Linked DNA regions of Homo sapiens. The protein of the gene in region 3 purifies or fractionates together with the protein of the main gene of each other region. This does not show direct contact. Each region holds a gene or a part of one and is shown on either strand. Other genes may lie near its edges. The genes, in order: CMAS, RPRD1A, CLOCK, PUM1, TDRD9, KHDC4 and VPS50.

Region 1 (3,500 bases), on a different chromosome or scaffold from region 3:
ACAGTATAGCTTCATCTTCCACTCTTGAAACCAGCGATGGAGCCCCCGCTGAAAAACATGACAGGTTCATCAAGAGGAAAATTGGAGTACAATTACCAAAAGTGAGGGGGAATAGATTCTGTTGGTCAGAACCCAACAACCAACCATTACAGCAGGCATTGGGGATTTTGCTATGAAATGATTGGAAAATATGTATATATATTGACCAATGATTTTCCCATTTCCACATTTTAGCATTTGTACAAAACTTCTTTTAAAAAAAGACTCTAGTATCAACCTTTTCTGTACCAAGTAGTTTTATTTAATACTTCTAGACTAGAGTGTAAACTCATTGACCACAGGGATAATGTTTTATACTTCTTCAAGCCACCTGTGGTATCTGTCACTATATCAATGGTGGCGATTAGAAGAAATAAAATTGGCTGGGCTCACACTTGTAATCCCAGCACTTTAGGAGGCCGAAGGCAGGCGGAGGCCAGGAGTTGAAGACCAGCCTGGCCAACATGGCGAAACCCCATCTCTACCAAAAATACAAAAATTAGCCAGTTGTGGTGGTGCATGCCTGTAATCCCAGCTACTCAGGAGGCTGAGGCAGGGGAATCACCTGAACCCGGGAGGTGGAGGTTGCAGTGAGCCGAGACTGGACCACTGCACTCTAGCCTGGGCAACAGAGCAAGACTCTGTCTCAAAAAAAAAAAAAAAATTTTTTTTCTAAACTAGCAAAATGAATGTATTTCTAACTTAACAGTATCATGTAACAATGTGAATTTACTCTGTTCAAGTTTTGTGGCTATGTGCTATTTGTCATCCTTTCCAGGCATCTGGAGAGATTAGGTCAAAAGGTAATAGAAGGGACCAGCACTTCTTCCTCCATGAAGCCTTTACTGATCCCCTCAGTGAAAAGTAATTGTGCCTTTGTTTTCCCATACATAGCTACGTCGTTTGTACCTTCATTTAGTGCATGCCCTATGCAGGGAGATAAGATCACAGACTCTGAAATCAAACTGTGGATTTGAATTCCAGCATCACCATGTGTTAACTGTGCAAACTTGGGTAAATCGCTTAACCTCTCTGTGCCTCAGTCTCTTCATCTACAAAATGTACTGAAGTGTGTGCCTCACAGGCTTGTGGAGGGAATTAAGTGAGATAATGTACGTGCAGCCCTTAGAATAGTGCCTGGCACATAGTATGTAATCTGTTATTGACATTTTCCTCTTGTTTAGAAGGTTTTTACTATCTTCCATGCTTGTAAAATGGGAAACTCTCCCATTGCTTGTAAAACGGGAAAGTTGTAATGATCTTTAAAATTATTTCTGGTGCTAACATTCTTTGACTTTGAAGAGTTAGTGGAAAGATGTCTTTATTCTCTTTTTCAGTTTCAGTGGCCAGCAGACTTTTTCTGTAAAGGGCCAGATAGTAAATATTTTAGGTTTTGTAAGCCAGATCGTCTTTGTTGCAATCACTCAGCTCTACTGTTGTGTATGTTGTGAAGGTGGCCATGACAATACATAAATGAAAGAGTGTGGCTGTATTCCAATAAAATGTTACAGAAACAGGCTGAGGAGTGGGCAGAATTTGGCCTGGGGAGACTCCTGCCATACTAGGTGAAAAGCTAAGCTTCTTATGAGCAAGTACCCTCTTATTCATCATGGTATGCTTTATATACTAGATCATTAAAATGTGTTGACTTATATTCAATTGACTTACTATGAAGCTGTAAGAGGACTTTGGAGCACCCTTCCTGCCTCCTACCCTCTCTTTTGTTTCTTCAAAAAATGTTTACCTTAGGAGAGAGCTGAAGAAAATTGCAGCTGTCTGATTTGTGTTTTTCAGGGCTCGAAGATACCTTTGAGATTATTTTGTTCAAAACCACGATTTGACTTAATTGAGGCAGATTTCTCTGGCCTGCTCAGAATCAAAGCTAACAGTACTTTTCAAGGTTGCTAACTTTGCATACTAACTAGGCTAGTTAGTAGTTAAGAAAAATGCTGAGATAATTTTTTTTCCTTTAGTACAAAGTTATTGCCAGAGTTGATTTTGTAAGAGCTTAATTTTCAACAGTGGTTCAGTGCTGTGTAAGTAAACCTCAGAACAAATTGATTTGTAAGTGTTGCCTAACATACTTGGGAAAAGTAAACATGTTTTAGTTTTATGCTTAGGGTATAGACTTTTGATTAATGAAAGGCCTATGCTGTTATTATCCCTAAAATGGCAGCTTCTGATTTAAAATAGTTATCACAGGCACCATGGTTGATATTCCTGTTGGTCCTGTTAGATGTGGTGTGACTTCATTTGAGGCTAAAGCCATTGGCATTAGACTTTGACATTCACTCTGCTTGACTGGCCTGTTTGTTCACTTGCTCATTTTCTCTTTTGCATAGCCCCATCTTATGTCCCTAAACCAAAGGAAAATTATCTACTCAGTCTCTTTCATAGGTTATGATCATAGTATTTTAAGTGTACATATGGGATACTGTTTTCATATTTTTTTCACAGTGTAATTGCTTAACATAACATACAAATTAGACATTTGGACCTTTGAAGGTCTGGAAGCAGAACTTCAGTCTACCTTCTGAAGATTGAGTGTGAGGATTAAATGAGACAGAGTAGATGTTACTTTATTACCATTCCTATTTTGGTATTTTGAATAGCTAACATTAAATGTTTATTCTGTAGTAAATGGTTTATATTTAATCCTCTAAACCATATGAGGTACCCACTATTATTACTTACCTCCATTTTACTGAAAATTGAGGCATAGGGAGATATGGATTTTTCCCATGGTCATATAGCTAGCATGTGGTGGAGCCAGAATTGAACCTCTTCCTTCAGAAACCATCCTTTTAATCCCTTACTGTTTCATTCATTCAACAGATCTATATTGAGCACCTGATATGTAGCAGGCACTGTGAAAGTACTTTGTAAAAAGTAAAGCACTGAAAAGAGCGTAGTTACTTAATTGATCCCTCGCTTCTCTTTTCCTAATGGTTTAAAGAGAATTACACCGCTATATTGGCCTCAGTCTCCATCAGTAGGCCAAGACTTTCTCAAGAAAATAAACTATGCTCTATATGTTATTACATCCCTAGTGTCCAGAATCGTGCCTGGGACAGAATAAGCACTTAGTAAATGGTTCATAAATTAAGGATGAATGAACGAAAGAAGGAAGGAAGGAAGAAAAGCAAACCTCCTCCAAAATTCTGTTTTTTTTCTTGCTTTTTAAACATTACTTAAAGACCACTGAACCCTCTGGTATTGAATTTTCATTGCAGTAAAAATCAGGATAATGAAGTAAATGGCTTCAGCAATTTATTTCAATTAATGTAAATTAGATGCCAAATTACCATGTCTTTTGCCTTCCCTGTTTATTTTTTATTGTATTCTAATTTCATCTTATCCTCTCGTCATCTCTATTTTAAAAATGCACTAGGTTTTCATTGCTACTTTACTTTGTTATATACCTTTGACTATGACATTTCCCAAGAGAACATTTTTTTCCC
Region 2 (3,500 bases), on a different chromosome or scaffold from region 3:
AAAGTGAAAATAGTATCTTGGTATTTGGACCCCATGCTCAATCACCTCATATGGAATTTGTCCTTTGGAAAACACTGGTAAATATATTTTTAAATCTTGTAAATTTTTATTTTAGTGTATATTGTAAAAGCAATTCTGAATTCTTTGAGAGATTGATATAACCCATGAATTTAAAAAACATTCTAGGGCCAGGCACAGTGGCTCACACCAGTAATCCCAGCACTTTGGGAGGCCTAGGTGGGAGGGTCACTTGAGCTCAGGAGTTCAAGACCAGCCTGGGCAACAAAGTAAGACCTTATCTCTACAAAAAATTTAAAAAATTAGCCAGGCATGGTGGCGTGTGCCTGTGGTTCCAGCTACTTGGAAGCTGAGGCAGGAGGATTGCTAGAGCCCAGGAGGTCGAGGCTGCAGTGAGCCTTTAGTCTGGGAGACAGAACTTGTCTCAAACAAAAAAAACAAAAACATTTTTTTTGTTTTTGTGGTAATAAATATTATTTACCATCTTCATTTTTTCCGTGTACAGTCCAGTAGTGTTAAGTACATTGTTGTGTAGCCAGTTTCCAGAACTGTTCATTTTGCAAAACTGAGACTCTGTACCCATGAATAATTTCCTATTCTCCTCCCATTCCCACAGCCTTTGGCAACTATCCTTCTACTCTTTTTTTCTATGAATTTGAGTACCTCCAATAAGTAGAATCATACAGTGGTTTGTCTTTTTTCATGACTCGATTATTTCACCTGGCATGATGTCCTGGAGATTCATCCATGTTGTAACATGCGTCAACATTTCCTTCTTCTATAAGGCTGAATAATACTTTATTGAATATATAATTCACATTTTGTTTATTCATTGATCAGTGGGTTAGGTTGCTCTTAACTCTTGGCTATTGTGAATAATGCTGCTAACATTGTAAAATATTTTTATTTCAGTTGCTACTTTTTGTTTTGCATTGTTTTATCTTTTTCTTCTTTTCAGTTGCTACTTTTGAGTCTCAAAGATTAACATGCCCTTTTAATTATGACAGGAAGCATGGTCTAGTTGTTAAGAGGGATTTGCTTGGCTGTTGGACTTTTTGGATTCCAATCCTGGCTTATCTCTTCCTCATTATTTCCCTGAGGGCAAATAATGTTTTTGGCTTTGTTTGTTCAGCTGCCAAATAGAGACATATTGTTAGGATTGAGATAATGTATGTAAAGTGCTTGGAATAGTGTGTAGCACATAGTAAAAGTGCAGTGAAAGGATTGTTTGTTCAGGTACCCATTCAAAAGTGATGCAGGCAATCTCCCAATTAGATAATACAAATTTGAGTTTCTAAACTCATTTGACACTGGGAAGGCAAAAATCTGGATTGAACAATACCAATCTATTTTGTGGGTGGGATTGAGAGGGCAAGGATGGGTACAAAAGAGACAGGACTGAATGTTAGGATAGGGTCCCGATATCTTAACCAGTTGTACACTGTGGTTTATCTAACCAGACAAGGAGCCTGAAAACCAGAAGCTGGTCTCTGTTATAGCCATCTCTTCTTATTTTTATTCCATGCCAGCAACTTGCAAAATCATGAAAAGTGGTAGACAGCAATTTAAACAGACAAACCAGGTTATACAGTGGCATGGCACAGGTTTGTAAAGTTTGATCAGTTGTGACTTAGTATATGAGAAGGTTGGGCTTCTGGTTGCTCCTCGAGAATGATGTGAACTCAGAGGTGACTTTTTAATATGTCAAATGCTTAAATTTGTAAATTGAATACTTAACATCTAGAGGACCACATGTAGCCTGATCAAGATTTTTGTCTTAAATCCAATAAGATAGCCCACATCAATAGGATACTGCATAATTGGTCCTGACCATAAGTTTCCTACACCACTGTACTATGGATGCCACAAGGTATGATGCTTCTGAATATAACTGTACTACATTGAGTGATTCAAATTTAATTCTAGTAAAATATAAGAATAGTATAAAATATTATGTTCAACACTGTTTTCCTTATGTATAATCTTATTTGAGTCATATTCAGTAGTAGTATGCTATTTAACATTGTAACCAGTAAAAATGTACTGTGGCCCACAACTGTTGAAATCTTGTCTATTTCCTTAGAGAAATGACTACACCCACAGAGCATAGTGAGTAGGGGAATATTTTTGTCATAATGAATTCAGTTTAAAATTTATGGCCATGTAATCTAAAGACAGAAACATCTAAACTTTTCCCATTTACTCTCCCTAGCAGTTAATCTATTAGCTTGGCAAATATTTATTGCATAAACAAAAAATAGTAATTGATTGAAGGGACATCTCTTTCAACCTGTTTTACATTTCATGCTCTTCTGTTGTTTCACAATAGCTTAATAATGATTTCGAATTAACATGTCTATTAAAACAATCCTAAATTCAATGTAGGATTTAGGGTGCCATCTTAATAACATGAGCAATCACCATCTTATTTTAAATGACTATATTTCATATAGTTTGTAATGGTTTTACTAAAATTTAATACAGGATAGAGTCACCGAGATGCATTTTTACATAGACATTAGTTCTGGCGATTTTAGCAGCAGTGACTGGTTAGTTTGGTAGTAAAATGAGAGACTAGGGTTGAAATGATACATAAAGGTTAGTAGGGTTATTTTAGTTCTCAAAATGCTTAATTTAGGTATTGAGAAAGTTTGTCCAAGTAAAGATGTTTTAAGTAGATTTTTAACTTTTTCTTATTTTTCAGCCAAACCAAACAGGAAGCTTACTTTTCTCTACCTAGCCAATGATGTCATACAGAACAGCAAGAGGAAGGGGCCAGAGTTTACAAAAGATTTTGCACCAGTTATAGTGGAGGCTTTTAAGCATGTTTCAAGGTATGATCATAGTTTTGGGTATTAGGTAATCTGTTTTAAATGTACCATATGTCCTTTTGCTAAAATTTGCCTTAAACTATTAAAATAAAAAGTAGGGAATATAGTTTTTTGATGCTTTTATTTGAAAAGACTTCCCTCTACATGGCATTTATAAATGTATTAAATGCCTTCTCTGAAGGAAAAATATTTTTTGAACTGTTGCTAAGGTGGGCCTTTGGAGTACTTGAATTACAGCTTTCCTTTAAGAGACCAGAACCAACTGCTATATTGGAATGAACTTCATTAAAAATGAATGAAGGTATTGAAGTAAAAATTTGTGTGTTTATAAAGCTATCAGTCTTGTAACAAATATTTCCATATACACTTAGTACTGTTTCTATTCTTTTTTTTTTTTTTTTTTTTTTTTTTGAGACAGAGTCTCACTCTCACCCAGGCTGGAGTACAGTGGTGCGATCTTGGCTCACTGCAACCTCTGCCGCTTGGGTTCAAGCGATTCTCCTACTTCAGCCTCGCAAGTAGCTGGAATTACAGGTGCCTGCCACCATGCCTGGCTAATTTTTGTGTTTTTAGTAGAGACAAGGTTTCACCATCTTGGCCAGGCTGGTCTTGAACTCCTGACCTCGTGATCCACCTGCCTCGGCCTCCCAA
Region 3 (3,500 bases):
CAGGAGGATTGCTTGAGCCTAGAAGCTTGCAACCAGCCTGGGCAACATAGTGAGACCCCATTTCTATAAAAAATTAAAAATTAGCCAGGCATGGTGGCTCACACCTGTAGTCTTGCGTACTTGGGAGGCTGAGGCAGGGGGCTCACTTGAGCCCAGGAGTTCAATGCCACAGTGAGCAGTGATCATGCCACTGCACTCCAGCCTGGGTGACAAATCAAGACCCTGTCTCAAAAAAAAGAAGAAAGTAAGGACCCAAAGGTGTAGATGCTAAAGGAATAAGGAACAGTGATGTGGCCCGGGTCCTAGAGAAAATAGGAAAGACTATAAATGGTAGAGATGGAAGGATTAGCTTTAGAATGTGAAGCAAAACTTTCCTTTGAAAGTGAGTAAAGAATGAAAAGGATGAGTAGCTAAAAATAGGGAAACATTAAGTTGTTTGCACCAGAAAATCTATTTTTTCTATTAAAGACAAAGTGAGATCCTCTCCTGAAGGTGCTCTACTTTTATGAACTAAATGTCATTGACGACTTCTGTTGGGGAAAATAATGGTTGTAAACTTACACAACTTTTATGATCTTACTTTATGTGGTATATCAATCATTGTTTTATATCAGAAATATGTGATTTTTAAAATCTCTTTTATTTCAGCAAAAAATCAGTTAGAATTCTGTTGTCACATGCTGCGAGGAACAATAGACCCAAAGGAGCCATCTACCTATGAATATGTAAAATTTATAGGAAATTTCAAATCTTTAAACAGTGGTGAGTTAAAATGCTTCTCTCACAATGTGTTTTAACTTGTTATTTTTCTGTGCTCTTAAAGACATAGATGTTTGAATATCAGTGACAATTAGGTTTTGCTGGCATAACTGATGATACATATTTCCCTATTGTTTTAGTATCCTCTTCAGCACACAATGGTTTTGAAGGAACTATACAACGCACACATAGGCCATCTTATGAAGATAGAGTTTGTTTTGTAGCTACTGTCAGGTTAGCTACACCTCAGTTCATCAAGGTATGTTTTTAATTTTATTTCCCAAAGGGGATTTCAGTTCATATGCTGAGAGCTGCCTGAAACTTCCTGCAGACATTGAGGTGGAATGGCTATGAGTCATTAAATATGCATGATAATATTTTTGAAACGATGAGTTATCAAGACACTCATTAAATTGTATAACTAATTTTTTAGTATATATCCTTTGCAGTTAACCAGTGATTATTATATATCAATATTGCCCTACTTTTGTGGAAGATTTTAGGATCCTTTTGTGTGTTGTTCATTATCTCTATTAAAAGGGAAAGTCCAAAAATCTAGGTTTTTGGAATCTTTATTTTTAGAAGGTAACTTTTAAATTTTTATTTGAAATGTACAAGTGGCTCTTTGCCACATATAACTTACCTTTTCAAATGTAAAATTAGGTATTTTATTTTTATTTCCTGGACCCAACAAACAGATGACAAGTAGGGAAGTGGGAAAGTGAAAGAGTTAACCACTAGAAACTGACTGGAAAGAGGCAGCCAGGCTAAGATTTAAAATTTCGGCGGGGCCAGGCGAGGTGACTCATGCCTGTAATCCCAGCACTTTGGGAGAGCAAGGCGAGAGGATTGCCTGAGCCCAGTAGTTTGAGACCAGCCTGGGCAACGTGACAAGACCCCATCTCTACAAAAAATACAAAAAATTAGCCAGGCATGGTGTTACACACCTGTGGTCTCAGTTACTCAGGAGGCTGAGGCAGGAGGATCATTTGAGCCCAGGAGGTCGAGGCTGCAGTGAACTGTGTTTGCATTTTATTTTGAGACAGAGTCTGACTCTGTCTCAAATAAATTTGGGGGGACATCATAGTATAGGACAAAGTACTGAATTAATAGAAGATCTTAAGCCAGTCTTGCTTGGTTTGTTTTGATCTTATGAAATAATAGTTGTTAACATTTGAGTGCTTACTACATGCTGTGTATTTTATATGCATTATCTCATTAATTCTTATGACAACCCTATAAGTTAGATGCCATTACGATCCCTCATTTTACATTATAAGGAAACAGGCTTAGGGAAGTTAAGTGACTTGCCCAAAGTCTCAGCTATTAGTGATGAAACTGGGACTTGATTCTATTAATTAATAATTGTTTTTTTCTCAAAGCCCAAGCTCTCAACTATTACAGAGTGCTGCAGGTCATTCAGGGACACAGAGGCAGGATGGAATACATTGTTTAGTATGACTAGAGTCTAGGGTTAGTGTGTGGAGGGGGAAGAGATAGTGGGAGGTAAGGCTAGAAAAGTAATCAGAAACCAGAAATAAAATTTGTTTCTTTCTTGTTTATTTCTCCATGCTGAAGAGAGTTTAGCACAAGGAACCACTGAAGGTTTTTTAGCAGGGAAGTCATATAATATTTGAGTATTGGTAAGGTAATTGTGGCCCTAGAAGAGAAGATGAGTTGAAGGACAGGGAGACTGGTGAACACTGTAGCAAATCAGTGATGGCAGGGGTCTAAACCAATGCACTCAAGATGGATGAGATAGAATTGATTTTTAAAATACTTAGATGAAATGGAAAAGATTTAGTAATGGCCACTTAGATGATGAAAGGTAAAAATGAAAGAGTATGTTTTTTTAACTATCAGATTTCTAGACACTGGCCACTACACATGTATAGAATAATACGGAAAATTGTGTGATTGGGTGTGAGGAGTAAAGCAGTTAGTTTATTTTAGGACATATTGAATTTGAGATGTATGAGGACATTCAGATATTTGGAAATATGGAACTGTAATTCAGGAGAGAGGTCTGAATTTTGAATAAGCGTTTATAGGCATGTGTGAATGGAAAATGTGTAGAGTGAGAAGTACCCACCCAAAAGCTTGCATCTAAAGGTTATTTATTACCACATTCTTTAGTACTGGAAAATTAAAATATATTAACTTGTTTAGAAGGGCCTGCATTTTGGCTTATGCCTAGAATCCCAGCACTTTGGGAGGCTGTGGTGGGCAGGTTGCTTGAGCCCAGGAGTTGAAGACCAGCCTAGACAACATAGACCCCCCACCTCTACAAATAAAAATACAAAAATTAGCCGGGCGTGGTGGTGCATCCCTATAGTCCCAGCTACTTGGGAAGCTGAGGCAGGAGGATCGCTTGAGCCTAGGATGTTGAGGCTGCAGTGAACTGAGATCACACCACTGTACTTCAGGCTGAGTGACAGAGTGAGACCCTGTGTCAAACAAAGAAATAGGTAAATATATACATACATAGAAACAACTAACTTGTTTAGGAAAAGTTTATCTAGTAATGACTATTTATTTATGTATTTATTTAACCTCCACCTCCTGGGTTCAAGTGATCCTGCTGCCTCAGCCTGCCGAATAGCTGGGATTACAGGTGCCCGCCACCGTGCCCTGCTATTTTTTGTATTTTTAGTAGAAATCGGGTTTCACCATGTTGGCCAGGCTGGTCTCAAACTCCTGACCTAAGTGATTTGCCCACCTCAGCCTCCCAAAGTGCTGGG
Region 4 (3,500 bases), on a different chromosome or scaffold from region 3:
ACTTGCCCTCACTTAGACTATAGTTCACTGATGAGAGCATTGTTCTGAGCCAGTCTTAAGTCATATTGGAGGTATCTAAATGTCCATGCAGCTTGGAATATGTGGTTTTTCCTTGGTGGATTATCTGTTTTCTGTTTCAGAATCAGGGATAGATGGAGTGGCCAAGCTAGTTTACAAGGCTTAGTCTTTATGTTGATGTTTTTGAACAGCATGATTAGTGAGAAATTTCTGGTATACCTTGATAGGGTCATCCCTTACGTTTTTAAGGTTTCTCTTAAACCAATAGTAGGGGTCCTTTTTAGCTGTCTACCTCTGAGATACATGTTTATATAGATACATCTTGAATATATGTTGTTTTTGGTTCACTGTCAGCTGGTTTGGTGCTTTGCATGGGATTAGATGTACTTTGATGTTCTACATGTGAAACAAGTCTTTGAGAGATGTCAGCGTATTTTTATGGACCTTTACTGATCATAGAGCATAGCCAATTTAACTGAGCCATTTATGAATTCAATAAATAACTTTAACCTGTTTCATTTGTTTTTTAGTTACTGAGCCTTTGTGTGTTCTTAGGAAGTCACCTGCAGTTTTTCATATGGCTTAAACTGGGATTTGGAGATTCTATCTCACATAATATTGAAAGATCATGTTATTTAAAGCCTATCTAGGTTTTTCCTGCTATTTTGCAGGATATTTGTTCTTAAATTATTATGTAGTATGAAAGTACTATGATTTTTATAATCATTTGTAGCCTCTGTTTATTCAACTATTTAAGTGATGGAGCCAGTATATAAATCTGGCCAATTCAACCTCAAAGCTGAGTTTGTGATTATTGACAATATGTTGGTGCCCAGGAGATACTTGTTTGTTTAACATATACATTTCTTTGTTGGCTTGATATTCCTAGGTTATCCGGTGTTGGCTCCTGCTGCTTACTATGACCAAACTGGTGCCCTTGTAGTGAATGCAGGCGCGAGAAATGGTCTTGGAGCTCCTGTTCGACTTGTAGCTCCTGCCCCAGTCATCATTAGTTCCTCAGCTGCACAAGCAGGTGAGCGCACATCTGAGTGGACTCCTGCCAGAGATCTAAAAGTGGCGACTGATAGTGAGATTCTTAAAGTATGTTGAAATAAACTTTTGGCAATTCTCAGTATATCGGTTCTACCCTGTAATGTTTCAAAAAGAGATCAGAAGCAATAAGTGACCTTAGTGGATTCTCCTTTTTGTTGGGGGGTTGGTGGGTTGGGGGAGGGGTGGCATGTGCCAGCTGGTTAGAAGCAAGGTCTGAAGGTCTGGCTCCACTGAGAACATAGAAGTTGCATTACTCACACAAAATGGCTTTGTTGGCAGAAATCCAAGTCATTATTTTAAGATAATTTTAGAGGAGGGGTTGTTTTTTGCCACAGGGGCAGGAGTGGAGGACGTGGGAAAGAGTAGTGAGAAGTGACAAAATAATACATTTGGTTGGGAGGAGTAATAGTTTTTTACTTTAAGTGTTTATATTTATTTATTTTTTAATTAAGAACAATAACAGGAACATCTAGAAGACAGCAGTGTGCTAAAATAGGAATTTGAAGGATGTGTATGTGCATTACATGGTTCTAGAAGAAACCCTCAACATAGATATTTATGGAATTTAAGATTTTAGGAAGTAGTTGTATTTAATGGATACATTTGATGTTTATACCCCTTTTAATCTGTATACTCTTAAAAGCAACCAGCATAGTGAACTTGTTCTAGTGGTATTTTGAGTTCAAATTGAAAGTAGAAACAGAAAATAGAAGCTTCATATGAAGGGATCAAAGACAGATTTGTATGGTTTGTGTCTGTTTTGAAAAGATAGGCAGCATTAAAAGATTTTTTGAAAAAAGATAAAAATGTAGTTTGGAAATGTGGCCAGTCCCTTTCATAGCCAAACGGTTTGCTTTCTTCTTCATAGCTGTTGCAGCAGCCGCAGCTTCAGCAAATGGAGCAGCTGGTGGTCTTGCTGGAACAACAAATGGACCATTTCGCCCTTTAGGAACACAGCAGCCTCAGCCCCAGCCCCAGCAGCAGCCCAATAACAACCTGGCATCCAGTTCTTTCTACGGCAACAACTCTCTGAACAGCAATTCACAGAGCAGCTCCCTCTTCTCCCAGGGCTCTGCCCAGCCTGCCAACACATCCTTGGGATTCGGAAGTAGCAGTTCTCTCGGCGCCACCCTGGGATCCGCCCTTGGAGGGTTTGGAACAGCAGGTAGAAATTAGACTGATATGCTCTTAAGACTGAATTTTAATTATTTTTACAATCCTTCTGGAATACTGGCAATGCATGGAACCACAGGCAGATCTGGACCAAGCCTTGTGGGAATCCAGCCATCCCACATAATCTGTGAGATGATAGACTATTGAAATCAAGTTATACAGATGGGACCTATTTCAATCCATGCTCATGTGGCTACTTACTTAATCAGTTTCTTTCAGGGATTTGAAATCTAGGGAAGATTTTTGCTGTATTTGGGAAAAATATTGAGGGAACTGTAGAAATTGATATCAAAAACTGAGGGAGGAGGACTTACTAAAGATAGCAGAGCTGAAATACTCCACAATTGAGACTGAGCCGAGTTCTTGGCCTGCAGGCCTTAAAGAGTTACAAGTTTTCTTCAGTCTTTTGAGTAGAATTTAAGGTAGACATGTGGAAAATTAGGAGGAAGGATATTAGACCAAGATATTTTTAATGTTTTGATGAAAAAAGCAGGAGTGTAGTATGGTGAATAATGGGATAATTGCAGAGATTATAAAAAACAAACAAACAAAAGTGATCCCTAAATAGAAGGGCATGTGTGAAAGAAAGTATCTTAATTGGAATTGAGGGCAGCATTAACTCTCGATTGAACCCACTGAGAAAACAGGCTTTCATATAGAAGTCTTGTGTAGTGGGGCAGTACCCCATTTACAAATCTTTTTTCTGTATCCCATTTTTCTACTTGAACCTTTTCAATTGATGAAAGGCATTCTTCTAGTCCATTTTCTTCCACCTTTTCCATAGTTCATGTGGCCGTCAGAGCTTTTTAACCCTCCCTTATCCTATAATATACGACACCATAGGAAGGTAAATTTGGCATATGTTTGATGGTCATGTTAACCTGAGCCATGTCCTCTTTATTACTTATCTGCCCCTAGTACTGCTACATTAACAGTTAGGCTGTCTCTGCTGACAAATTTGCGGTGGTAAGGAGTCTGGATCAAAGTGTTAGGAACAGGTCACTGGGCTTGTTCTTCGAAGAACAGGCCTGTTCTTATCTGCATTGTTTTAATTCCATTTTAGTTGCAAACTCCAACACTGGCAGTGGCTCCCGCCGTGACTCCCTGACTGGCAGCAGTGACCTTTATAAGAGGACATCGAGCAGCTTGACCCCCATTGGACACAGTTTTTATAACGGCCTTAGCTTTTCCTCCTCTCCTGGACCCGTGGGCATGCCTCTCCCTAGTCAGGGACCAGGACATTCACAGACACCACC
Region 5 (3,500 bases), on a different chromosome or scaffold from region 3:
TTAAGGACATTTGAGGTTTTTCCAATTCTTGCCGTGTAAATAAAACAGCTGTGAATATTCATGTACAGGTTTTTGTGTGGCCATAAGTTTTCATTTCTCTGGTATAAAAACCCAAGAATATAGTTACTGGGTCATGTGGTAAATCTATGTTTAGTTTCTTTTGTTTTGTTTTGACACGGAGTCTCACTCTGTCGCTGGGCTGGAGTGCAACGACGTGATCTCGGCTCACTGCAACCTTCACCTTCTGGGTTTAAGCAATTCTCCTGCCTCAGCCTCCCGAGTAGCTGGGACTACAGGCATGCCCCACCACGCCCAGCTAATTTTTGTATTTTTAGTAGAGATGGGGTTTCACCATGTTGGCCAGGACGGTCTCCATCTCTTGACCTCGTGATCTGCCTGCCTAGGCTTCCCAAAGTGCTGGGATTACAGGCATGAGCCACTGTGCCCGGCCTATGTTTAGTTTTATAAGGAACTACTGTAAACTCTTTCCATGGTGGCTGTGTCATTTTACATTCCATGAGCAATGTGTGAGATCTGTTTTTTCCGTATCTTTGCCAGCACCACTGTTAAAAGAAAAATTTTGGCCAGACACAGTGGCTCATGCCTGTAATCCCAGCACTTTGGGAGGGTGAGGTGGGCAGACTGCTTGAGCCCAGGAGTTTGAGATCAGCTTGGGCAACATGGCAAAACCCTATCTCTATAAAAAATACAAAAATTAGTCAACCATGATGGCATGCGCCTGTACTCCCAGCTACTCAGTAGGGTGAGGTGGGAGGATAGATTGAGCCTGGGAGGTCAATGCAGTTGAGCCATGATTGCGCCACTGCACTCCAGCCTGGGTGACAGAGTGAGATGCTGTTTCAAAAAAAAAAAAAAAAAAAAGAAAAAAATTTTAGACAAATTAAATTTAACAGAGTTTTAAAGAACAATTTGCAAATTGGTCTGCCCCTGAACTGGAAGAGGTTTAGAGAGACTCTGGTGCTGTTGCGTGGTCAAGGAAGATTTATGAACAGAAAAAGGAAAGTGACGTGTAGAAAATGGAAGTGAGGTACAGAAATGGCCGAATTGACTACACCTGGGCATTGGTCCTCTTTGAATGTGGTTTGAGCAGTTGGTTGCCTTTGATTGGCTGAAACCCGGTGATTGGCATAAGAGTGGGTTATAGTCTTTTTACATATCTAGTTAGGTTATAGTTTACTATATGCAGAGAGACTTTTAGGCTGAACTTAAAATATGTAAGGAGGCATCTTTAGGCTAACCTTTTTTCTTTTCTTTTCTTTTTTTTTTTTCTTTTTGAGACAGAGTCTTGATCTATTGCCAGGCTGGAGTGCAGTGGCGTGATCTCGGCTCACTGCAGTCTCCACCTCCCAGGTTCAAGCAGTTCTCTGCTTCAGCCTCCCAGGTAGCTGGGACTACAGGCGCGCACCCCTATGCCTGTCTAATTTTTGTATTTTTAGTAGAGACAGGGTTTCACCATGTTGGCCAGGATGGTCTCCATCTCTTTACCTCGTGATCTGCCCGCCTCGGCCTCCCAAAGTGCTGGGATTACAGGTGTAGGCTAAACTTAATTTAACAACTTTCCCTTTTGGTCAACCTGTCAAGATTAAGAGGTTGACCAAAACCTTAGGCATTGATGTCACTTTGTCACCATTGTAAATGTGTTTATTTGGTCTCAGATCTCCCTGGGAAGAGATTGAGATTGGCTCAATCTCTTGAGCCAAGAGATTGAGACAGTGAGTTTTGTCAGGTGGGAACAAGGACTTTAAGTTATTTTTTTATAAGGGTTAGAGTAGCGGGGACCTCTTTATGTTGGGATTTTTTATTTTTATTAGTAGGAGAAAAAGACAACTTGGTCTGTTTTAGCATCTATCTTATGCCTTAATAAACAAAAGACAAAGGGTAGATTTAGATAAAAAATTTTAATAGTACCTTTGTTAATCCATAATCAGTCAGAAACAAAACATTGGTTCACCCCTCTTGACCTACATCATAGGTTAAAGAAAACATTGCCAAGAGGCCTTCACCCTTCTAGATAGATATCTTTTGTTAGGATCTAGATCCCCATAGGTGGGGAAAGAATGCTTTTTGGGTTGCCCCATTTCTTTTAAAGCTGCATTTTAAGACTCCCTCCTACCCCTCCCTTCACTCTCTCTCCTTGGACTATTTTATTATGTGTTAGGATAAAAGAGTTGCTACTTCATAGGTGATAGAGTCACAAGAGAGTAGTAGTTTGTGTCATGGTCTCTGTGGGCCAGCCTTGGTTCTGAACCTTCTGCTTGTTCCTCACTCGGTCACGTAATGCGGTGTGGCTGACAGCTGGGAGGGTGCTTTGCAGTGGGGCAAGGAGCTGTGGGAAGCACAGGGTGCTGAGACAGCTCCTCGATGGCATTGTAGGGCCTGTCGCCAACCTCGTGACTTTCTGTTATGTACTGTGCATTTTCAAGAAGGGTGTACTTGGTTTCTGTTGCATATTGGGCCAAGGTTGTTTTCTTCAGAAATATGCATTGGATTTTATAATATTGGTCACTGAATAGAAGTCAGCATTTAGTCTTGTTCTATTTATTCTAATTTTTTAGGATAGTCATTCTTATTTAGAATAATGTTTAAAATAATAACTTATTAAGAATACACTAATGTATTCTAAAGTTTTTACTGACATAGTCTGGTGGAAGATACTTAAGGCTTTGCTTAATTAATATTTAATGACTGTTTAAAAAGATACCTTCATGCTGATGTTAAAGTAATTAATGCCAAACACTGTTTGCACATCTCTCCTTTGAAGGCCGTGCTGGACGAGTGTCTAGAGGGTACTGTTACCGGCTGGTACACAAGGATTTCTGGGACAACTCCATCCCTGATCATGTTGTTCCTGAGATGTTGGTAATTCACTTTGGTCATTGTCAAAGTTTATTTATTTATTTATTTATTTATTTATTTATTTATGAGACGGAGTCTTGCACTGTTGTCTGGACTGGAGTGCACTGGCATGATCTTGGCTCACTGCAATCTGCCTCCCGGGTTTACGCGATTCTGCTGCCTCAGCCTCCCAAGTAGCTGGGATTACAGGCACACACCACCACGCCCAGCTAATTTTTTGTATTTTTAGTAGAGACAGGGTTTCACTGTGTTGGCCAGACTGATCTCGAACTCCTGACCTCGTGATCCGCCCGCCTTGGCCTCCCAAAGTGTCAAAGTTAATTTTTTGTAGATAGTTTTGCCAAATAGTCTAAGTGATATAATTTCTAGTGTCATCTAATTTTGATTCCAGAAAAATCCTTGTCTTGCCACATTCCCCCTCACTCACAATCTGGGCTCACTATTGATTACACATCAGGCTACTGTCTAGGGCGTTACCCACATTTTACAGTTTTAATGAGAGGATGTTTTCTGGTATCTATGGGCTCTATAATAGGATTGTCTTTAAATGCTGCTGTTTTCTATGTCCCTTTATAATGAGTAATTGTGGGATCAGCTTTTTTTCCTTCCTCTTTTCTGTGTCT
Region 6 (2,434 bases), on a different chromosome or scaffold from region 3:
TTCTAGATACACGTTGGTTGGAAACAAAAGGTTGTCTGTATACAATTTTTTTAAAACTATTTTCTCTCTCTCTCTCTCGGCACACGTTTGTTGGAAATAAAAGGTTGTCTGTATACAATTTTTTAGAAACTATTTTCTCTTTCTCTTTCTTTTTTTTTGAGACAGAGTCTCACTCTAGTGCCCAGGCTGGAATGCAGTGGTGTGATCTTGGCTCACTGCAACCTCCACCTCCCAAGTTCAAGTGATTCTCCTGCCTCAGCCTTCCAAGCCGCTGGAATTACAGGCATGCACCACCATGCCCAGCTTAATTTTTCTATTTTTAGTAGAGACGGGGTTTCACCATGTTAGCCACGCTGGTCTCAAACTCCTGACCTCAGGTTATCCGCCCACCTTGGCCTCCCAAAGTGCTGGGATTACAGGCGTGAGCCACCGTGCCCAGCCCAAAAGTATTTTCACTGGCCAACAGATTATAGAGGTTGGATTAAACACCTGAATGAACATCAGGTTAGAAAATTAATAGCTTTATTTATGTATTTATTTATTTATGAGATGGAGTCTTGCTCTATTGCCCAGGCTGGAGGGCAGTGGTCTGATCTTGGCTCACTGCAACCTCTGCCTCCCAGGTTGAAGCGATTCTCCTGCCTCAACCCCCTGAGTAGCTGGAATTACAGGCGCCCACCACCATGCCCGCTAGTTTTTGTATTTTTAGTAGAGATGGGATTTCACTATGTTGGCCAAGCTGGTCTTGAACTCCTGACCTTAGGTGATCTGCCCACCTCGGCCTCCCAAAGTGCTGGGATTACAGGCGTGAGCCACTGCGCCCGGCTGAGAAAACTAATAGCTTTAGACCAGTCTTAGCCACTCCCCTGTTCCCCCAGCTATATCACACTCACCATGGCTCCCTGTTAAGGTCCCAGACCCATTCCTTTCATCGGACTCTGTTTTTATTCCAGTCACTGGAAAGGCTGGTGGAGGCATCAACTGCCTATTGAAAAACAAAATGAAACTTTCTTTCAGACAATTTAAATTTTCTTAACTTATCCAGTGGATTAGAAGTGCAATTATGTCTGCAGACAATCCTTCAAATTCATTTTAACCATTAATTTCAACCCCTTCCACCTTCCCCCAGCCCCTTTATAAAAGTATAAGGCCTGTCTACACAGCAATTGCCATGACAAAAATCGAATGAACTGTTATAGAAAGATATCAGCTCCTTTCTTATGAAGGTTAATATACTAATATAAGAAAGGAAAATTCAAGCACTGTGTGGCAGGCTGAACTCCCACATTCATGTACTTCCATCCATGATATTCTAATGACTCTAAAGTAGCAAAAATAGCTGAATTATGTAACATTTCTGTTACTGTCTACCCTTAGGAAAATGGCCAAGATGCAGACAATGGAAGTCAAGAAAGATGTCTGAACAAGTAATAAATTATTCAAAACCGAATATAACTGCTTCTAAATCTGTAAAAGGCCTATCATATTTTACTTCATTGCATCAATTACAACAAACAGAAGCATATTTGATTCAAAGATTTCATTTCAGTTTCAGAATACTTAAGCTCATAGCAATGATCATTACTCTCACTAATGGTGCAAACAAATAACATCTGAATACATTTGCATAATTATTCCAACTTACCTGTCCCTCTCTCTCTCTTTGCCTGAGGAACTTGCTGGCTTCGATCCTGCACCTTCAATCTCATTCTGACTGGAGAAGCCTGTACCTAAATTAGTCATATGAATGGGTCCATGCTATGAGCAGAAAAATACAGTGGCATTAGCAAATCTACAACTGCCGTATTGACTTTAGCTCCTTAATGTAACTGTCAAGTGCCTCATCTTTCTGATAAGTTGTAGTACGTTAAACTACTACAAAGCTCTTTGGGATCTGCTGTGTAACTGTAGTCAAAAGTAGGGATTTTTTTTTTTCTCTATAGGACTTGGACAGGGGTGTTATAATTCATTATGCTATCTATGGCCTGTTTTTAACTGACTGCCCATAGCTCCACTAGTTTCTATAAACCTAGCTAGAAACTATAAAAAAATGCTTTGGTTTAAAGAATGATTCAAGGATTCTGGCAAAATGGAAAGGTACTTCTGATAAAATTGCACCAAAACTACAAATTAAGAATCTTTTTAACTTTAGTGGCTAACTTTACAATTACATGTACAGAATCACTCCTTTTCTAGCAGTCTTGAGGGGTGGGGAGACTGGAGGGAGATATCACTCTCTTTTTTAGGTGGAGGGTAAAAGAGAGAGCACCACTGAAAGCCAAGGTTTTAAATACAAACCACATACTGGTAGATCAAGAGCTTTGAGTGAGATGTATAAGAAAGTAAGAACTCTCAGAGGCTTTCAAGAGTCTGTTGAATAGGATAAAAAACCTAACCAAAATGAATTCCAGAAAGCAGAAATCCTAGTACTGGG
Region 7 (3,500 bases), on a different chromosome or scaffold from region 3:
TGAGTACATCTTTTGTTTTAGAGGCCTAGCAAATTTCCACTATCATAGAGAAATGTATGCTTTCTCAGTGAGATGTTCTGTTTATTATTTCATTTATCTGTGTTTTCTTAATTTTTTTTTCTGTTAATTTTAGAAAAGGAGTAACTAAGTAGATAGCATACTTAGGTCAGATTATAGTTTAGAATGAATAATTCTTTTTTTCTCAGTCAATGATCTTTGTACCTTGAGGGAATCTTACATGCTTATTGGCTGAATATATCTGGTTTTAGTCCATTTGGGCTCCTATAACAAAATATTCTAGACTGCATAGTTTATAAACAGAGAAGTTTATTTCTTAGAATTCTAAAGGCTGGAAGTCAGAGATCAGGGTGCCAGCATTGTTGGGAGGGAGGGCCTGCTTCCTGGTTCATAGACATTGTCTTGCTGTATCCTCAAATAGTGGAAGGGATGAAGGAGCTCTCTGGGGTCCCTTCTATAGGGGAACTAATCTAATTAATGAGGGCTCTACCTTCACGATTTAATCATCTCACAAAGGCCCCACCTTCTAATATATTATCACCTTGGAGGTTAGAATTTCAGCTTCGGAATTTTGGGTAGACATGAACATTCAGACCATAGCAGTATCTTATTAAGTTTTTCTTTACAATTTAGTAACTCAGTTGTTGTAATCAGATAATTTGTTACTTCTTAGATCACAGTGTAATTTCTTTGAAGATAACTTACTCTTTTTGGACTTCTTTGAACCTTGGAAGACTATAGACCCTTTGGCCATGTTATGGTCTTTTAAAATGTATTTTTGATTTTTCTAATGAGGCTGATCTTTATTTTGACCATCTTTTTTTTTCTTTCTTTCTTTTGATTGATTGATTGATTGATTGAGACAGGGTCTCACTCTGTCACCCAGGCTGGAGTGTGGTGGCAGAGTCATGGCCCAGTGCAGCCTCGACCTCTTGGGCTCAGGTGATCCTTCTGCCTCAGCCTCCTGAGTAGCTGGGACCACAGATGTGCACCACCATGCCTAATTTTCTTAAATTATTATTGGTGGATATGGGGTCTTGCTATGTTGCCCAGACTGGTCTTGAACTCCTGGGCCCAAGTGATATTCCTGCCTTGGCCTCCCAAAGTGCTGGGATTACAGGCATCAGCCACCATGCCCAGCTTGACCATCTTTTATAGGATATGTTTTGAAAAAAATTGTTTAGGAAAATATATTTTGAAAACATAAATTTCTTCATGAATCAGTTAATATTTATAATTTAGTGCTCTTCTAATTTTTGATAATTTTGTATTCGATATGCTATTTGATTTTATGCTTTAGTATTTAAAATTTATTTTTGTGGTTGTAAGAGGTTTGACATATATTTTCTCATTTGTCTATATTAAACTCATAACCATATTAAACATTTATTAAAATTAAATATTTAATTTATCATTAATTGTGGATTTAGGCTGACTGTTTTCTGAGTATTATGCATAAAAAGAAAGGAAAATCTTATAGTTATTGAATATACACCCAGGATCAGATATGATTTGTTTCTGACTTAGTCTCCCAATAGGCCTTAAGTGTACTTTGGTAAAATTTTACAATCTATGATAGAATTTCTGGTAATTCAGTGTACTTTGAAATACTGACTTAGCACTTTATGTAGCTACTTTCCATTCAGTTTGGCAACCTGATGGCATTCCTGGTATAGGAAATGGGATTGTCTCTATTACATCCCTTAAGGATGTTGGCTATTGGCCTAAATAGATATTCGTTAACAAATTAGGAATATATTCCTGTCTCATTTTAATCTGGAACTATAGAGTAAATGCTTCTGATAACTTATTTTCTATATTTTGGGTTTGCTTGATTTTCTTTTTCTTTGCCTTACAGGATGTTCAGCTAAAAGTAAAAACCTACTTGCTTGGAACTGATTTGTCTATATTCAAATATGATGATTTCATCTTTGTTTTGGATATAATCAGCAGGTAGTATTTAAGATCTTGTCTTATTCTTTAGTTTGAGTCATTCAACCATGATAAATCATGAGCTAGTGAGTTATCATCTATAACTTCTTTATGGAAATGAAGATAATTTTTGCTGCTAAGTTTGTGAGTGTATTTAAATATTTCTGCCCTTTGGGTGTTTGTAAACCTTTATGGATTTGTGATCTTTAGAATTTTTTCACATGTCCAAATTTTAGTGATTTTTTTTATCTTTGAAGAAAGAGAAACCACACTTCTTTTTCTCTATAAGGCTGCTGCTGAAATTTACTGAAACCTTTTTATCCAACTAGGTTGATGCAAGTTGGAGAAGAATTTTGTGGTAGCAAGTCTGAAGTTTTACAGGAATCTATTAGAAAACAAAGTGTCAATTATTTCAAGAATTACCATAGGTAAGAACTCTAATAAGATATGAATCGACTTATTTAGGTAATGAGAATACTTTTGTCTAATACTTAATCTTATAGCATTAATTGATTTTAAACAATTACTTTTGAATTTGAATGTGTTGTAGCTTTTTTAAGATGGTTAAGGATTTTTTTAACCAAAATATGATGAAATGTTCTCATTACATATTCATTGTACATTTTAATATATTTTTGTCTTGAGGGGCTTAAAATATTGAACTGATTTTTTAATGAGTAAAACATGATTATTATATCAAGGTTCACAGAAAGAATTTGGCCACTGTTCCATACCTGCATACATATGGGTGTGCTTATAAGGAAGTTAAATCAGTAGAGGCAGTGCTCAGTGAGGGGGTGCTTGAGAGTATCTATCTTTTAAATGTAAGAAGGATTCTAGAGGAGAGGATGTGATATTCAGAATTCCCCTATAAATCCAAATTTGTATACTGCATTGCTTTGCAAAACAATCACTGCTAATATTTAAAAGAGTGACTAGGAATGGTTTGGGTAGTGGAGGAAGGTGGGAAAGAATGTTTATAATAGCAGTGTGATTATATCCTTACAGCAGCAATAAATTGAGGGAAGGGAGAGCTAACATGAGATTTCTCTTGATATAAGCTAGACCCCAAGTTGTATCCCTTTTGTCCTTTGAGTTGAGTTTCATCTTACTTTTTATTCTGAACTTTTACTTTTTACAATTGAATTTAAGTTTTGATTTCCTTGTTATTTGGTCCCAGAGAGAGTCATGATTTGAAATTCTGCTTTTTCTCCTTGTTCATAGTCAACACCTGCTCACAGTGATATATGCCATGTCAAAAGAGAGATGACTGAACACCAAACCATTGATTAATTAATTATTATATATATTTGAATACAAGTTATCTCTGTTAATTGTAAACAATGAAGTAAATTGTTTGAAAAAGATTTAAATTGAACTATACTAAAGCAGAGCCTTTGAGTTTCATGACTGAGAATGTTTAAAAATTTTTTAAAAATTTAATTGACTAAACCTCAGGGAAACAGTGGGAAGGGACCAACAGGAAGCCCTAACACTGCCTTTATTTATAAGTTCCTTGTCTGCTAAAACTTAAGCCCTGACTAAAACAA

Evidence for each region.
Region 1: the proteins of CLOCK (region 3) and CMAS purify together in Homo sapiens (affinity purification with mass spectrometry; one large-scale study listed by BioGRID and IntAct). This does not show direct contact.
Region 2: the proteins of CLOCK (region 3) and RPRD1A purify together in Homo sapiens (affinity purification with mass spectrometry, with the first as the bait; one large-scale study listed by BioGRID). This does not show direct contact.
Region 4: the proteins of CLOCK (region 3) and PUM1 purify together in Homo sapiens (affinity purification with mass spectrometry; one large-scale study listed by BioGRID and IntAct). This does not show direct contact.
Region 5: the proteins of CLOCK (region 3) and TDRD9 purify together in Homo sapiens (affinity purification with mass spectrometry; one large-scale study listed by BioGRID and IntAct). This does not show direct contact.
Region 6: the proteins of CLOCK (region 3) and KHDC4 purify together in Homo sapiens (affinity purification with mass spectrometry; one large-scale study listed by BioGRID and IntAct). This does not show direct contact.
Region 7: the proteins of CLOCK (region 3) and VPS50 purify together in Homo sapiens (affinity purification with mass spectrometry, with the first as the bait; one large-scale study listed by BioGRID). This does not show direct contact.

What each region holds. Positions count from the first base shown.
Region 1 is NC_000012.12:22,049,218-22,052,717, forward strand, and holds part of CMAS (N-acylneuraminate cytidylyltransferase), read left to right. Parts: intron 1-3,500. UniProt on the Homo sapiens protein: Catalyzes the activation of N-acetylneuraminic acid (NeuNAc) to cytidine 5'-monophosphate N-acetylneuraminic acid (CMP-NeuNAc), a substrate required for the addition of sialic acid.
Region 2 is NC_000018.10:36,033,060-36,036,559, reverse strand, and holds part of RPRD1A (regulation of nuclear pre-mRNA domain-containing protein 1A), read left to right. Parts: intron 1-2,722; coding exon 2,723-2,852; intron 2,853-3,500. UniProt on the Homo sapiens protein: Interacts with phosphorylated C-terminal heptapeptide repeat domain (CTD) of the largest RNA polymerase II subunit POLR2A, and participates in dephosphorylation of the CTD by RPAP2.
Region 3 is NC_000004.12:55,456,410-55,459,909, reverse strand, and holds part of CLOCK (circadian locomoter output cycles protein kaput), read left to right. Parts: intron 1-648; coding exon 649-762; intron 763-899; coding exon 900-1,018; intron 1,019-3,500. UniProt on the Homo sapiens protein: Transcriptional activator which forms a core component of the circadian clock.
Region 4 is NC_000001.11:30,964,718-30,968,217, reverse strand, and holds part of PUM1 (pumilio homolog 1), read left to right. Parts: exon of another isoform or gene 1-55; intron 56-907; coding exon 908-1,051; intron 1,052-1,939; coding exon 1,940-2,236; intron 2,237-3,307; coding exon 3,308-3,500. UniProt on the Homo sapiens protein: Sequence-specific RNA-binding protein that acts as a post-transcriptional repressor by binding the 3'-UTR of mRNA targets.
Region 5 is NC_000014.9:104,001,456-104,004,955, forward strand, and holds part of TDRD9 (ATP-dependent RNA helicase TDRD9), read left to right. Parts: intron 1-2,782; coding exon 2,783-2,880; intron 2,881-3,500. UniProt on the Homo sapiens protein: ATP-binding RNA helicase required during spermatogenesis. Required to repress transposable elements and prevent their mobilization, which is essential for the germline integrity.
Region 6 is NC_000001.11:155,914,980-155,917,413, forward strand, and holds part of KHDC4 (KH homology domain-containing protein 4), read right to left. Parts: intron 1,759-2,434; coding exon 1,646-1,758; intron 986-1,645; coding exon 894-985; intron 1-893.
Region 7 is NC_000007.14:93,294,866-93,298,365, forward strand, and holds part of VPS50 (syndetin), read left to right. Parts: intron 1-1,876; coding exon 1,877-1,971; intron 1,972-2,279; coding exon 2,280-2,378; intron 2,379-3,500.